2 separate regions of the Homo sapiens genome follow, and region 2 is linked to region 1. The links come from fine-mapping of genetic effects on gene expression. Tissue or cell type: cerebellum. Region 1 holds a variant in brackets; the other region holds the start of a gene. All regions are shown on one strand. Distances are from middle to middle.

Region 1 (8,104 bases):
TATCTCTTCCTGTGGCTTAGAATGCCTTAACCTCTTGGTAATGCAGCCCAGCAGGTCTCAGCCTTATTTTACCCAGTCCCTATTCAAGATGGAGTCCTCTGGTTCAAACGCCTCTGGCAGAGCCACTTTACTGAGGACACATAGTAAGGGGTGGAGTCAGCAGTGAAGCATATTACAAGTGCTTTGAAACTCAAGCCCTGAGTCTCTTGTGTGATTTCTTAATTTCACTCTCTGATCCTTAGTTTCCTCGTTGGTAGAATGGGACTGGCCCTGGTGCCCCTGCTACATGGAGTCTGTGGGATTCAATGAGAAGATTCCTGGCCTGGCGTGGCTCATGCCTATAATCCCAGCACTTTGGGAGGCCAAGGTGGGTGGATCACTTGAGGTCAGGAGTTTGAGAGCAGCCTGGCCAACATGGTGAAATGCTGTCTCTACTAAAATACAAAAATTAGCTGGGCGTGGTGGTGCACACCTGTAATCCCAACTACTCGGGAGGCTGAGGTAATAGAATCACTTGAACCCAGGAGGCTGAGGTTGCAGTGAGCCGAGATTATGCCACCGTGCTCCAGCCTGGGCAACAAAGCAAGACTCTGCCAGAAAAAAAAAAGAGAAAAGATGCGTGTAAAAGGGCTGACTGCTGAATCCAACTTAGTCACTACTCAGTAAATGTCAGCTACTACTACTATTATTACTGAATTTCTTTTTGGAATGTTGATAGAGAACCATTACCACTTAAACCTGGGGAATTTTTCCTTGCTGTGGAAACAGGGCTTGACTTTCTAAAGATTGTGCTCCCCTCTCATGATGATTGGTGACTTCGTTTACTCATTTATAACATGTTCTGAACATCCACAACTTTGGTCCGTTTTTTTTGTATATGCAAATTTTTTGAGATATAGATTGAATGGTAGAAATGGAGAATTAATATTTGCATGAAAGGATTAATAGTTTAAAATCTTGTTTTTAACCATAAAGCAACACATTCATAAGCTGTAAAACTTACAAATGGGTATGAAATGTAAACGCCTACCTCCTTACTTACAAATCCATATTTAATGTAATTATAGCTGAAGATAATCATAGCTATTATTTCTTTTTTCTCAGATATTTGTATGTATATACATACATGTATATAAATATATGTATAAACGTGATTCTAGGAATTTTCACTTATAATGATATTGTATTCTACCTTTTTTTCCTACTTAAAACAGTTTAGTTTGGATACTTTTCATATCAAGACATAGAAATGCATTGGTTCTTTGGAACAGCTATGTAATATCCCATTTTACAGAGCCACTATAGTTTATTTAATCCTCTCTTGATGGGCATTTAAATTTTTTTTTTTTTTTTTACTATTACAAATAATAGTATCATGCTACTCCTATACAGTATATATTTGCCGCCTGGTGAAAGCGTTTCCTTGGGAAAAATTCCTGAAAGGAGAATTGCTGAGTTTAAGAGAATGTGCTTGTTAAATTTTAATAGTTATTGCCAAATTGCTTTCCAAAAAGTTGTAGCAATTTACATTTCATTAATAATACATGAGTGGTCCTGTTTCCCACACTCTTGAGTAAGATCAACATTTTACAGTAGTTCTCCTTTATCCATGGGATTATACCATGCTGCACAATTTAAAATGTATAAGTTGTTTGTTTCTGGAATTTTCCATTTAATACTTTGTTTTCTGAAGTTTTAGTTACCCTGGTCATCTGCAGTCTGAAAATACAAAATGGAAAATTCCAGACTGTGGCTGACCAGAGGTAACTGAAACCTCAGAAAGTAAAACCATAGAATGGGGTTGGGTGGGGTGGGTGCAAGCTCCAGTATTTTTGCAAAATATACAAAGTGAAAAACAGTATCTTGTTTTAACTTACATTCCTTGATTTTTTTAGATAGCTAAAAATGTTATGTGTTTATTGGCTGTTTGCTTTGTTTTTGTTGCAAACTTATTTTTCTATTGAATTGTTCAGTTTTCTGTTGCTGATTTTTTAATTGCTTTGTATATAAAAGAAATTAACCCTCTTCCTGTTATATAAATTGCAGACTTTTTTTTTCTATCCTGTGGTTTATCTCTTGACTTTACGGTATTCTAGTCTTGAAAAAGTTTTAACTTTTATATAAGTAAATTTATCAATCTTATCTTTTATGTCTGTCACTTTTCCCCAGTTAAAAATTATGAGAAAAAGATCAATGATTTTTCCAGTATTGTTATGGTTTCATATTTTACATTCAAGTTATTGATCCACATAGAATTTGTTTGGGCATAAGATACTTCTGCACTTTTTCCCCCAATGGCATGTTCATCACAACATTTCTGAATTATTCATATTCTCCCATTAACTTTAAAATACCACCTTATTTATATTTTATTTTATTTTATTTTTTTGAGACAAAGTCTTACTCTGTCACCCAGGCTGGAGTGCAGTGGCACAATCATGGCTTACTGCAGACTTGACCTCCAGGGCTCAAGTAATCCTCCCACCTCAGCCTCCCAAGCAGCTGTGACTACGGGCATGCACCAGCACACCCAGGTAATTTTTATATTTTTTGTAGAGACAGGGTTTTGCAATGTTGCTCAGGCTGGTCTCGAACTCCTGAGCTTAAGTGATACACCCACCTCAGCCTCCCAAAGTGCTGGGATTACAGGCCTGAGCCACTGCACATGGCCTTATATTAATATTAATACTTTAAGTTCTTAAAGGTATTTGGGTCTGTTTCTGGGGTCTTTATTCTCCATTAACAGCTTTCTTATTTCTTATAATTTCTCTACCTATAAAATATCTTAATATTGGATAAAACTATTTCTTCATTATTTCATTTACAGTTGTATTGGCTATTCTCACTCCTCTATTATTCTACAAGACCTTTACAACATTTTGTCAGTCTCCAAAAAAATCCTATTGATATTTTGATTGGAATTACAATTGCTTCAGGGAAAAGAAACTATATTGTTTCATTCACTCCTATCTTTCGGGTTCCCATATTAATCAGGATAGGATGGACTGTTGCAAGAATAATTAAATTTTCAAATCCCAGGGTATTATTTCAACAAAATTTTGTTTCTCACTCATGTAAATTCCTGTGCAATTGGGCCACTCTCCAGGACAGGGGTCCTCACTTTAGGGGCCCCACTGTCCAGGCTGTTTTGATCTTACAGCTCTGCTCTCTCAACATGCTGAGGACGATGGAAGAGATAACTTCCGGTCCTGTCTAGTTAGGTGGAGTGGTAAAACCAATCCTGGTCAATGGACTT[T/C]GAGTAGCAGTGATATGTCTCACTTCAGGATCAAAGCTTAGAAAAGCAGGTGTGAATTTTCCCTGTGATCTTTTCCTTTGTTGGTCAATTTCGGAGCCCATGACTTGAGATGACAGAACCAGCGACAGAAATCTTTTCAATAACTGAGCCACTTCATCACACAGGGCAGTTGCCCAGGGAACTCACCTGACTCACATCAGACCCACAGCTTTATTGTATTAAGGCCACTGAGATTCCAGGCGAAAGTTGCTACTGCAATGTGAAAAAACTTATCCTGACTGGAAAAAAAAAAAATGCTGAGGCCAGTAGTGGTAAGCTGTTGAAAAAAAATTAAAATACTGGCTTAGCAGTCAGCTGATGACAGAGAGGAAACTGATATCAGATGCTGGGAAGAAGGCAACACATTTGGTAAAGGTTTTGCTTGTGATTACCTTGCAAGACCATTCACCTATTGTACTGCTGCTATTATATATGTGGTTGCTTCTGGTTGTGTTTGGCAAAGTACTGGGAGGGAAGAGAGAGAGAGAGAGAAGCAACTCCAGAAAGAAATGACCAGTTTATAATGAATAATAAAAGGGAATAAAGATAATCCAAAAATTTGGAGTCTTATAAATTTGAAAAAACCAACTGCTTTTAGATTCAGAATCTGAAGAGTTTAAAGGCTTTGAGTAAAAAGTGCTAGGAAAAAAGAAAAAAAATATATATATATGTATATGTATACACACACACACACATAGATACATACATACATACTTGTGTGTGTATCAGTTGATTAAATGCCTCAGGGCAAAGGTTAGATCAACTTTTACAACTTGTTAAAACTTTAGAGGATTAAAATTACTTAAATCGAGGTCCTGGCCACGAAGGTGCGGGGGAGAGGCAGAGGGAGGATGTTTTGAGGACAAGAAAGCACAAGAATGAAGCAGAAATAAAAGAAGTCCCTCAAACACAATTCTAAATATGGTTATTTGCTCATGGAAATGTCTGGAAGCAGATAGATGGGGCCTCCTGGTTTTTGAGGTAGTCGTTCAGTAGTACAAAGAAACTGTAAGCCTGGTCTAAAAAGCCTGAGGCACCACCCTAATTCAGGGCAGGACGTGGAAAGCTGTGTAGCTCAATACTTCAAGTATGACCAAGGCAGATAATAGAACAGAAAGGACTTCCCAGAGGGTGGAGCCAATGAGCTCTGAGAACTGCCCTACACCCTGGGGGAATGGGCCCTGGAAGTCAAGTTTGTACCTGTGGCCGTGTCCCCGAGCAGAGTTGTTTGAACCCACATTGGGCAGTTGTCCTAAGTTTGACTAATCAGATTCTCTCAGAACTTTGTAACTGAGACTGAGATGTTCTTGTTTCTTTGAGAAGTTTGCTTGTTCTGAGGTAATAAGAACGGAGGACTTTATGGGAGTGGCCATCTTTTACCTATCAAGTGTGCTGAGAATGCTGTAGAGAAAACTGGTCTTTTCTGTAGAGAAGAGAAAAGAATACTTCTTGTGGAGAAGACATGAGAAACCATATTTATGGGGGCAAGGTGCAGGCAGTGGGGCAGGGAAGAGGGAGAGGGACACAGAGATTTGAAACATGATTCTGCCTGTTCCTGAGAGCTTTCTAGTCTCCTGGCTCCCCCAGGGTCAAGCTCCTATAAGGACCAGCTGTACTCCTATAAGTTCCAGGAGGCACCCATGTATCATTACAGTCCATCTCCTTTTCTTGTTTAAGTTTGTTTGGGTTGGTTTCTCTTTCTTAAAATCAAAAGACCCTTGACTGAGGAAGTGCCCGTATCTTATCACTGCAAAACATCTCCAGGAAGGAACCTCCCCTTCCTTCCTGCTGTGTACGTTGTGGTCACAGCACGACAGTGAGATTTCTCAGTAATCCCTGATTTCAAAGTAATTACAGGGGAAAAGGAGTAGCTGAAAAATTGGCTCATGCCTCCATCTCCATCTAGAATGCCCAGTGTTAAGGATGACCTCTTTAATAACAACACTGAGAACAGCAGCAATAATATGAAAAGAAAACATAATGATTCCTATTGTCCTTAATTTCATACTCAGGTTAAGGAGGAGGAGGAATATTTACTCTTTATTTCCTTTATCAATTCACTCTCCTGCTCTCTGGAAAGGTTTTCTACCTTCTCATTCTCCTACTTAGAGCGTCCCTTCTCTTTCCTTACTCTCAGCTGATGAACTTATTTTTTATTCCACTGAGAAAAAAAGAATAACTAGGAGATAATTTTATTATCCTTCCAGCACCAAATCTACCAAACTGCCAGCAAGGTACCCATTTACTTGGCCCTCCCTCCTGTTCCTATCAGTGCTTAAAGTTCTATCAAAGCCCAATAGAACTTCCTGAGATGATAGAAATATTCTGTACCTGTCTCTCCTCAAGGCAAAGCCGAGAGCCACACATAACTATTGAGTGATTGGAACATGGCCAGTGAAATTGAGGAACTGAATTTTACATTTTATTTAATTTCAATTAATTTAAATGCATATAGCCATATGTGGCTAGTGGCTGCTGTGTAGGACAGCTGAGGTATACAGAAGTCTTTTGAGGAGTTTTGCTATAAAGGAACAGAAAATGGGGTGGATAGTCACAGAGGGATGGGGGTCAAAGCAACAGCACTTTAAAAAAAAAGGTAAATAACATTTTAGCATGCTGGTAGGAAGGATTCATAGAACAGACAAAAAGATTACACAGGAGAGAAAGAAGGGTCAGTTGCATGTCTCAAAAGAAAGCATACACATAGCCAATAAGTGCACGAAAAATGCTCAACATCACTGATCATTAGAGAAATGAAATCAAAACCACAATGACGTACCATTTCACACCAGTCAGAATGGCTACTATTAAAAAATCAAAAAATAACAGATGCCGGTGTGATTGCAGAGAAAAGGTAATGCCTATATGCTGCTGGTAGGAATGTAAATTAGTTCAGCCACTGTAGAAAACAGATTGGAGGTTTCTCAAAGAACTCAGAACTACCATTCGATCCAGCAGTCCCATTGTTGGGTATATATCCAAAAGGAATATAAATTTTTCTACCGAAAAGACATATGCACCCATATGTTCACTGCAGCACTATTCACAATAGCAAAGACATGGAATCAACCTAGGTGCCCATCAATGATGGACTGTACAAAGAAAATGTCATACATATACACCATGGAATACTATGCAGCCATAAAAAAGAATGAGATCATGTCTTTTGCAGCAACAGGGATGCAGCTGGAGGTCACTATCCTAAGCAAATTAATGCAGGAACAGAAAACCAAATACCACACGTTCTTACTTATAAGTGGGAGCAAAACATTATGTACACATGGACACAAAGAAAAGAACAATAGACGCTGGGACCTAACTGAGTGGGGAGGATGGGAAGAGGGTGAAGGTAAAAAACCAACCTGTCATGTACTGTGCTAACTACCTGGGTGACAAAATCATTTGTACACCAAATCCCAGTGACATGCAATTTACCTGTGTAACAAACCTACACAACTACCACAGAGCCTAAAATAAAAATTGAGAAAGTAAAATAAATAAATAAATAAATAAATAATGCTTAGAAACAAACAAACAAACAAACAAAAACTAGAAGAAGAAAGAAGGCTCAATTATAAAAGGAAAGTTGATTCTAGATAGGAGCAGGCCATTGTATATAGATGCACTGTCTAATATAACAGCCACTAGCCATACGTGGCTATTTAAATGTAAATTGATTTAAATTTAATAAACCTCTAAATTTAATTCCCCACTCACACTAGTCACATTTCAAGGGGCTATCATATTGGATGTAATTTCCATCATTGAAGAAACTTCTTTTGGACAGTGTTGCTGTATACTTTCTGTCTTCATTTTATATCATCATTCCATGTTTTGAAAAAAGTTTTAAACTTTTAAATCAAATTTATATAGGTGCATAGATTAGAGAGCCAAAAAGTGCTGCAATTGACAACTTTTCATTCCTTCTCCCTATTTTTCACTTCCCAAGAAATTGTGATCAAGTCTTTTTTTTTTTTTGAGACGGAGTGTCACTCTGTCACCCAGGCTGGAGTGCAGTGGCGCAATCTCAGTTCACTGCAAGCTCCACCTCCTGGGTTCACGCTGTTCTCCCGCCTCAGCCTCCCAAGTAGCTGGGACTACAGGCGCCCGCCACTACACCCAGCTAATTTTTTTTTGTGTGTATTTTTAGTAGAGACGGGGTTTCACCGTGTTGGCCAAGATGGTCTTCATCTCCTGACCTCATGATCCGCCCGCCTCGGCCTCCCAAAGTGCTAGGATTACAGGCCTGAGCCACGGAGCCCAGCCTCGAGTCTTTTAGCTTTAAAAAAATTATGGCTATAATTCTAAATAATTTTCTTGTATTGCTTCCTCTCTATTATTTTCCAAGTTTTGGACATGATCCTGACTTCTTTAAGGAATGCGTGGATTCAGCACTCCCCACACCCCTTCCTAGTCACATCTGTACACACATGTACACTTCCAGTCCCCCATCTCCCCATAGAGTCAAAGTATTTTTATGGTTAGATCAGTATTCAGTGTTTTCATTATTATGAAAAAGTGACTACTTGCAACCAAGCCATGTGATAAATCATGGTTACTTTTTATTTAAGATCTTTCGATGTTCCCTAAAGTTAATATTCTTTTTTAAAAATTTGCTTAGCTATGTAAGCAGTTATCAGCAATTTGACCCCAGTCCTCTTCAGAAGTGTGGATGTTCTTCCCATATGTTCAAATATATCAATTTCATCTTTTTGGAGCTATGTTTTCTGGAGACTTGCTTCGATCTGCTCAGGTTGCTCTCTGAGGCCGCTGCACGGTTGGCACCCTGGAATCCCCGTCACCTACATC
Region 2 (8,104 bases), 460 kb before region 1:
AGAGGAAAAGGAGAAGAGAAGGTCAAGTAGGCCCAGAGTCCCAAAGGGAAGCAGATTGGGGTGCCCTCAGGCTTTGTGCTGGCCGGAGACTCTAGGGAAGGCTCAGGAAGCCAAGGCACGTCTTTTGGGGCCAGTCTCTTCTGCTAGGTGTTCAGCTGAGAAAGCTATGAGAGGCCTGGACTCAAGAGCTTTTTAAAAAAAGGCTCCCCACGGTAACCAGGCTAGAAGAGAGAGAGGTAGCTTGCATTTCTCTGTCTCATGTCTCTAAGGTTCTTGGAGGCTTTCTAATTTATCCTGGTAGGGGACATGTGACTTAGAAACTGGCTTAGGACTCTGCCATGAGGCGGGGTCTGGTAAGTAAATCTGGCAGGGGAAGGAGAGACACAGTCCAGCTTTCCCAGATGCAGGTTGCACATGCTGTCTTTTTCTCTGACTATATGTTGGAGGCAGTGAGTCCTGGTGTGTAGAAAGCCACATGTTGGGCACTGTGTGGACAGACAGGCAGGGAGATAGCCTCTTAATTCAGATCACTCAAAACTCAGTGATGAGTTTAAAAAGAGAAAGAAGACTCACAAATAAATGTATGCACAATGCACATGGTAGAAATGAGCATAAAAGGGCCTGGCTTTACTACAGAAATAGCTACAGAAAAGCTACGGATATGTGTGTGTTGGGGGTTGGGATCAATTGTGGAGCTAGACAAGGGAGATAGCAGGCATGTCGCTGGGGGTCTGCAGTAACCAAGCAGTTTTTCTGGAGTCTGTGGACACCAAAGAGGCATTTGGAAGGAGGATGATCTGGCTTGGAATTGAGGGCTGGGGATGACATACCTAAGGTGGAACAGCATGTGTCTTGGAGAGTCAGCATGGGTAGTTATGGGGTGAAAGAATGTACTGTAGGTGTCCAGCTGGAGAAGGGTTCTTGAAAGTCATGAACATCTGTCCCAATTCAACAAATAACTCACATCAAGTTTGAATTCTGTGCAAGACACTACAAGAAATGCACCCATGACCAAGGCAGTAGCTGGACTCAGGGATATCCACTCTTGAATGCTCTTGGAAGGAAGAGAGTTGAGACAAGTAGACTAGGTGGGCGAAGGTCAATGTATAAAGACCACACAGTTCAGGGAAGAATTCCTCTTGGCTATGGGAATCCGGGAAAGCCTCCCGGAGAAAGTGGTATGCCACTTTCTTTTTCTTCCAGTCCTTCCTTCCTTCCTTCCTTCCTTCCCTCCCTCCCTCCCTCCCACTAGATAGGGAGTGGGTCTTGAGGATTGGAAAGATTTCAACAGAAGGAGAAAGGGGCTGGGAGGACATTTCTTTTGGAGGCAGCATGATGAGCGAAGGCAAGGGAGTGTGGAAGCGTGAGGACAGGATGGGAAGCAGCTAGCAGCCCAGTCTGGCAGAAATAATGATAGTAATAATAGTGACTAACACTACTGAGCCCTAAGTACCAGGAGGCACTGGGCAGGGATGTGTATGGAGTGTGGTGCCAGGTTGTAGGAGGACTTGAATGCCAGGAAAGGCTTTTGGGAGGGTAAGTTAACAAGCGCAGAGGGGTTGGATCTGCCTGCCGAAGGAGAACTGGGACAAGGAAAGGGGCTGAAGTAAGAAGTCCCACGCTGAATATGCCGGTAGCAACAGATAGTGAGTCCCGAGCTGTGCCTGAGGGAAGGGAATAGAATCTATGGTTTGAAGTTCACCGCCAGCATGGCCAAGCCCTCCTAGGCCACTGTGGGCTCTTGCTTCCAATCAGACATGACTCCACCTCTGGGGCTGCCTCAATTTTTCCTTCTCTGGATTCTTGGGGTTTCTTAGGATTGCGGGAGATAGAATGGGGTCAGGGGAAGCTGCTCCTTGGTTTACAATGGTGGCGCCTCACGCTGCAGAGAGCCCAGTGTTCCTGCGTGGTGGACCTCTCCCCTTCCTAGGAGCAGCTCCAGATTGCTGGAGGCAGACACGGCTGACCGGCTAGCCCAGGAAGCACAATGGCGAGGTCCTTAGCCCCTGACCCCTGAATCTGACCTTCTCTCCAGCTAAAAGCGGAGGGAGAGGCAGGGAGGGCCACTGCCTAAAGCCGGCCCTGAGCTGAGTTTATTAGCTGAGGGAGGGCTGGAGGCGGCTGCATTCCGACTCACAGACTGGAACATTTCTGTGATCCGCTGTAATGCACTGGGGGACACTGGGCACATTGCTGAAGTTTGACTCATAGGGACCGGGAGGGGGAAAGAGGGGGGTTGTGGAGGGAGAGGAATGGGAGGAAGAGAGGAAGAGGAGAGGAGGGAAGGAAGTCCCTTGAGAAATTTCTTTAAAAAAAGAAAACTTTCAAAATCTGCACCACCCCCACACCCTTTTTCTTTTAATAGGAACAGGCTGGACCCTTCCGTTCCCCTCAGCAGGCATGGTGTGTGTGTGGGGGTGCCAGTGGGGGAGGGCTGGGCAGTGATTCAAATCAGATCCTGGAACTTTCCTGAGGCAAGTCGTGCTTATGTGTGTGTGTGTGTGGTGGGGGGTGTCCGTCTGGGATTCCTTGTATGGGACATGGGACACCACGCGTGTCCCACTGTGCCCGCGTGTGGCTGCGTGCTTGTGGGCTGTACGGGTATGTAGTGTGTGCACGGGGGTCCACCCCGAAGCCCCAGTGTGTGCTGTGTAAATGATTCTGCCCCTTGTAAACATGGATGCGTGCTCGTGTACGTTGTGTATGCGAGGGTGCGTGCGCCCAGGTAGCTGGGTTTCCGGGAATTGTGCACGGCTCGGAGCGCCTCGCGGCGGCTGGGGCTCGGAGCCGCGGCCGGCGTTCCGGGTTCGGCGCTGCCTCCCCGGCAGTGCGCCGCGCCCCGCCGCGATCTGGCCGCGCGCGGTGTCTGCGGCCCGCCTGTGCGCCGCGCGGTGCAGTGTCTGCCGGGGTGGTGTGTCCCAGGGCCGCGAGCGCCTGCCCCCTCCCTCCCCTCCCCCTTGGCCCGCTCTCAGACTCAGATAAAGCATTTCCTTCCATTGTCATCCTACCCGGCCGGCCGGGCTGCCAGGGCCCTCCCCCTCCCGGCCCCCTCCCTTCCTCTCGCCGTCTCACAGTCGCTCTGCAGCCTCCGGCGACTGGGGGGATGTGAGGCCGGCGCCCCAGCCCCCCGCCCCGCCATGAGCCCCCCGCTCTGAGGGCCCCGGCCCCTGGATGCACAGCCCCGGCGCTGGTGAGTACTGGGCGGCCGCCCCCCGCCCCGCCCTGCGCGCGGCACCCAGCGTCGCCCGCCCAGGCTCGGCCTCCGGCCCTGGCCCCGGCTCCGGCTCCGGCTCCGGCTCGGGCTCCCGCCAGCCCCGCGGGCCCAGCCCGGCTTGCGCCCCCCGACCGCGCCTGTCCCGCCCGGCTCCGCGGGGCTCTGGCAGGCTCCGGGTCGGAGCTGGTTCCGGGGGCCGGAGGGCTCGGGCCTCCCGCGGGGCGCCCACATCCGCCCGCCCCGGGGCAGCTACAGGCCCAAGGGAGGGAGTTGGAGGCCCCGGCCGCCGGTGTGCGGGCCCCACGTCCCATCACCCCTGTTCCCGGGGAGGACGAGCCGAGGGACCGGGGAGGGAGGGACGGCCGCGGTGGCCCGGCGAGGGGGCGGTGCTCCGGGGCGGAAGGTTTGGAAGCGCGAGGGCAAAGGGCAGGACCCACTGAGTTGGGGCTGGGCTTTGTGGGGCTGGACATCAGCGCCCCCATCCCGTGGAGCCGGGCAGGGCCCTACTCAGATCCTTCGGCGGGGAAAGAGGTCCCTTGGAGGGGTCTCTGGCTGGGAGGTTTCTCTGAGCATTGCCCCCCATCCTTGCTCACCCATCAGGGTGAAGAGACACCTGTGCCCTGGTGAGCTGTGGAGGTCAATGCCGGCAGCGGCGCGGGAAGCGGGGCGCCGCAGGCTGTGTGAGGGGTGGGGGACAGGATGTGCACCCCCCAGGCCTGGGGTCTGTTGGTGTTGGGGAGTGTGAGAGCAGGCGGCAAATTTGGCGGATGGGCTGGGTTCCCACGACCAGAGTTTCTAGGCCTGTGGGCCAGGAGAGAGCCCTCTGGGGCCCGCAGGCCACCCAGTGCCCCACCCCCATTGCTTCCCGCTGTGGCTGCCCGTTTGGGTCTGACCTCCCCAGCCACGGCTGCTCCTCACTCCTTCTCCCCGCTGGCTGTCTTGCGCACCCAAAGGCCTCCCCCTGCATCTGGACACTGGCTGTCTCGCTGCCAACGCTCCCTGCCCACTCCCCTAGGCAACATCTGCCTGAGGCCCAGCTCTGCCTGCCGCTTTCTAGGGTGAGAATGGGGCATCGGCCCTCAGCGGCCCTGCTGGGAGCTCAAGATCAACTTCTCAGCCTGTTCCCTGGACTTGCATCTGGACCTGTGGGACCTTCCTCAGGACCCCTATTCAGCTATAGGGCTGGCAGGAGACTGTGACTCAGGTCCCTGCCCTCCAATGAGACGCTTTGGCGGCCCTTTCCCCCTCCCAGGACTCCATAGGCTGCTAGGCTGCCGCTACCCATGGGTTATTAAGTCATTTTCTTCTTCTCTGCAGTCATTTCTGAGGGAAACTAAGGCACAGAGTAGTCCCAGTGAGTGGTACCCAGCCCAGTGAACCTAGACTGGAACCAGGTCTTGGACCTATTGGGACTGGTCCTCTGCCTTTAGTCCCCTGATGTCCCTCCTTGCCCAGCAGGGCCAGGCTCAGAGGCAAGCTCAGAGCTGCCTCCTGATGTTGCACCTGGAATGGTCCTGGTGCAGTGTTCTCCAGAGGCCTCTGTGTCCCTTATTCGGCGGGTGTCTCTGTGGCCACCGGGTCTTACAGTGGGTTTTGGGGCAGGGAAGTTTGCATGTCTAAGCTGTTCACTCCACTTTGACACTGAAGTTCAGTTTCCCCATCAGTAAAATGGGGAGAAAATTCCAAGCACACTTCTCAGAGCAGAGCAGAAGAGGTTGACTATGGAGAGGAGAATGAAGGTACTGTGCTATTATCCACCCCCTCCAGTTTGCTTAGGGATAATGGACCTCAGCTTTAGTCCTTGGTGGCCTCTTGGCATGGAAGCTGGAACTTTCTCAATTCTGATATAAAACCCTTGAGCAAGAGAGAAACTCATGTGTGATGGGGTAGGGAGTGGGGACCCTCTGGTAGCTGTGGGCAAGCATGCCCAAGGACTTGGAAGACAGAAGCCTGTGGAACCCCATCTCCTCTTTGCCTTCTTTCTCCTGGCCTTTCATTAAGGGCTGGTAATTTTGAAGTCGGCAGGGGCCTGAGAGAAGGTGAGCTAATGCAAGGCCCAGGGTCACACAGCCAGGGAATGGCAGGCGGAGGGGGCCAGAACCAGGCCTTCTCACTCTGCCAGTGCCCATTCTGCTGGCCCACCCTCCACAGCTTGGCTCTCCCTGGCCTGCCCTCAGTTAGACTTCGGACTGAGGCCTCCAGTGGGGTGTGGGGTATTGCTGGAAGCAGGGCCTGAATAAAGTCTGGGGCTAGCGGGAGGGCATCTGTCCTCCCGGAGGCTCCCAGGACTGTGCATTTGTGTGTGTTGGATTTGTTCACTAGATGGGGCACTTCCTTTGGGGCAGGAAGCTTTGATTTCCTGTGGTGATGGTGAGGAGGGGTTGGTAAGGATTAGGAGTGGGGGGCTCAGCTCTGGGCCATCCTCGATGTTGTTGTTTGGAACCACGGAGGGGCAGAGTTTCTGCTTAAGACTGCTTCTCCCAGCTCTGGGGAGGCAGGAAGGAGAGCCTTGGTGAGGAGGCCCAGGCCAAGGCTGGAGAAGGAGGCTGTGAGAGCAGTGAGCTGGGGGTGGGCAACACAGCAGGAAGCCCGGTCAGCAGGTGACCCTGCCGGGTATTGTGTTTCCTTGTAATATTTTCCCCCTGTTTCTGTGGTAACCTTCCCTGGAGGCCCCAGGCCTTAGGGCTACAGGAAGGTGCCCCCAGACAGCCCTTTCCTTAGAGGCCTGAGTATTAGGAGGAGTCCCCAGATCTAGCCACCTCCCTAACCCTTTTGGCTCCCTAGGATCAGGGGCCTGGGAATCTAGGCGAGTGGCCTGAGTGAGCATGGACTCGCGGGCTGGGGGAAGGCCCTTTGGCGTCTTCTGGGGGGAAGGGAGAGGGAAAGAGGGGAGCTGGACGCCCGGAAGGGCCCTGAGCAACTTGAGTCGCTGGCCTAGCCTCTTGTTTCCTCCCAACCCATCCCCACTGCCCTCCTCCAGTCTCCCTCCTCCTACAAGGGAGAGGTGGGTAGCATGCTGCCTGGGGCAAGGGGCAGGGGTGGGGGTGGCAGAGGTGGGAGGGATGTTTTCATCAGCAGAGCATAGCTCCTTTGGTCCTGGACCAGTTCCCAGAGGCAAAATAAATTCAGGACAGCGTCTGTTTAGTGTGGGTCTGCATGAGATGTGTGTGAGCACACACTGGGTGCGTGGTGGGTATCTGTGTGTGTACCCCTCCCCCCAGACCCTGTGTATGCTGATGTGGTGGTTCCGGGCAATTTGTGATCTATGTGGTGGTTCTGTGTTGGGTGTTTTGGGAATATGCACACATAAAAGACAGATGTGCATCATCTGTATGGTGCACACCTTTTCAGGTTATGGCCCTGTGTGGGGTAAACATGTCCATATGTATGGACATGTTTTTTGGGGGTATATATCTGGGCAGGAGTGGCTTTTTAATAGAAGTCCAGATGCTGGCTTGTAAAACACCATCTCATTTGGGATTCTCAAATGCGGGTTCCTGGACCATTTGCTTCAGAGTCACCTGGGGAATGTGTTAAAGATAAAGATCCTGGGCCGGGCGCGGTGACTTACGCCTGTAATCCCAGCACTTTGGGAGGCCGAGGCAGGTGGATCACCTGAGGTCAGGAGTTCAAGACCAGCCTGGCCAATGCGGCGAAACCCTGTCTCTACTAAAAATACAAAAAATTAGCCAGGTGTGGCGTGCGCGCCTGTAATCCCAGCTACTCGGGAGGCTGAGGCAGGAGAATTGCTTAAACCCGGGAGGCAGAGGTTGCGGTGAGCCAAGATCACGCCATTGCACTCCAGCCTGGGTGACAGCAAGACTCTGTAAAAAAAAAAAAAAAAAAAAATCCTGGCTGGACGCGGTGGCTTTGGGAGGCTGAAACAGGCAGATCACTTGAAGGCAGGAGTTCGAGACGAGCCTGGCTAACAGGGCAAAACCCCATCTCTACTAAAAATACAAATTTAGCCAGGCATGGTGGCGCAGGCCTGTAGTCCCAGCTATTTGGGAGGCTGAGGCAGAAGAATTGCTTGAGCCCAGGAGGTGGAGGTTGCAGTGAGCCGAGATTGCGCCACCTCACTCCAGCCTGGGCAATAGAGTGAGACTGTCTCAAAATTAAAAACATTCAGATCATCAGGCCCATTCCAGATTGACTAGTCAGAATCTGAGGGGTGGGGCCTGGGAATCCAGATTTTAACAGGTGCTTCAGGTGATCCTGGGGCAAGGCTGTGTTTGAGGACCACTGCCCTGGGTCAACCTCTTCATTTTTTCTTTTGAGGAAATAGACCCACAGAAGGTATGTAGTTTCTCTAAGGTGACAGGGCCATTAAGAGGAAGAACCAAGAGAAAACTCAAGGCTTCTAAGACCTGTCCAGGACTTTGTGCTCACCCATGTACCCCCTGTGTGTGTGTGTGCATGTGTGCTCATAACTACACTTTGTGATGACGTGGACCCGATTGGGCTGGTGCTAATTGGGGCTGATCTTTCCTCTGGGGTCCTGGCTTTCTTGTTTTCTGACCTTGTTCTTCTTGCTACATTCTGCTGCCTCCTTTTTGGAGAAATCCTGGAACTGTTGAGTGTCATCCCTAAAGGTCAATGTTGGCAACCAGGGAACCATGTTGCTGAGCCAGTCACTCAGCAATTCATCCATTCACTGGATCCTAGCTGAGCCTTGCAATGTTCTAGGCACTGGGTACAGATATGCAGTGAACACACAGGCACAACATCTGACCTCAGGGAACTTCCACTCTCGTGGAGAAGACAAACAGAACAAGTAGGCAAGTAAAGGAATGAGTATGTGTGACTAGTTACACACTGTGATAAGCCCTAAGAAGGAAATGAACTGGGCATGGCAATAAAGAATAACAAGGTGGGACTTCCTTTGATAGG

Evidence for each region. PIP is the estimated chance that this variant, and not a neighbour inherited with it, causes the effect.
Region 2: it holds the start of HDAC7, and the variant in region 1 is fine-mapped to the expression of HDAC7 in cerebellum (GTEx, PIP 0.93).

What each region holds. Positions count from the first base shown.
Region 1 is chr12:47,357,857-47,365,960 of GRCh38, reverse strand. All of the region lies in intron 1 of LINC02416 (long intergenic non-protein coding RNA 2416), which reads right to left. MIR4494 (microRNA 4494) reads left to right here and starts at 1,692; the gene lies at 1,692-1,775. RefSeq lists a silencer at 4,330-4,379. The variant T/C (reference allele first, on the strand shown) is at 3,257.
Region 2 is chr12:47,814,853-47,822,956 of GRCh38, reverse strand. It overlaps HDAC7 (histone deacetylase 7), which reads left to right and starts at 3,054. Exons shown (of 26, transcript NM_015401.5): 1 at 3,054-3,190. The coding sequence starts at 3,172. RefSeq lists enhancers at 1,292-2,213, 3,552-4,125, 4,843-5,503, 5,750-5,859 and silencers at 2,764-3,103, 3,244-3,323, 3,334-3,643.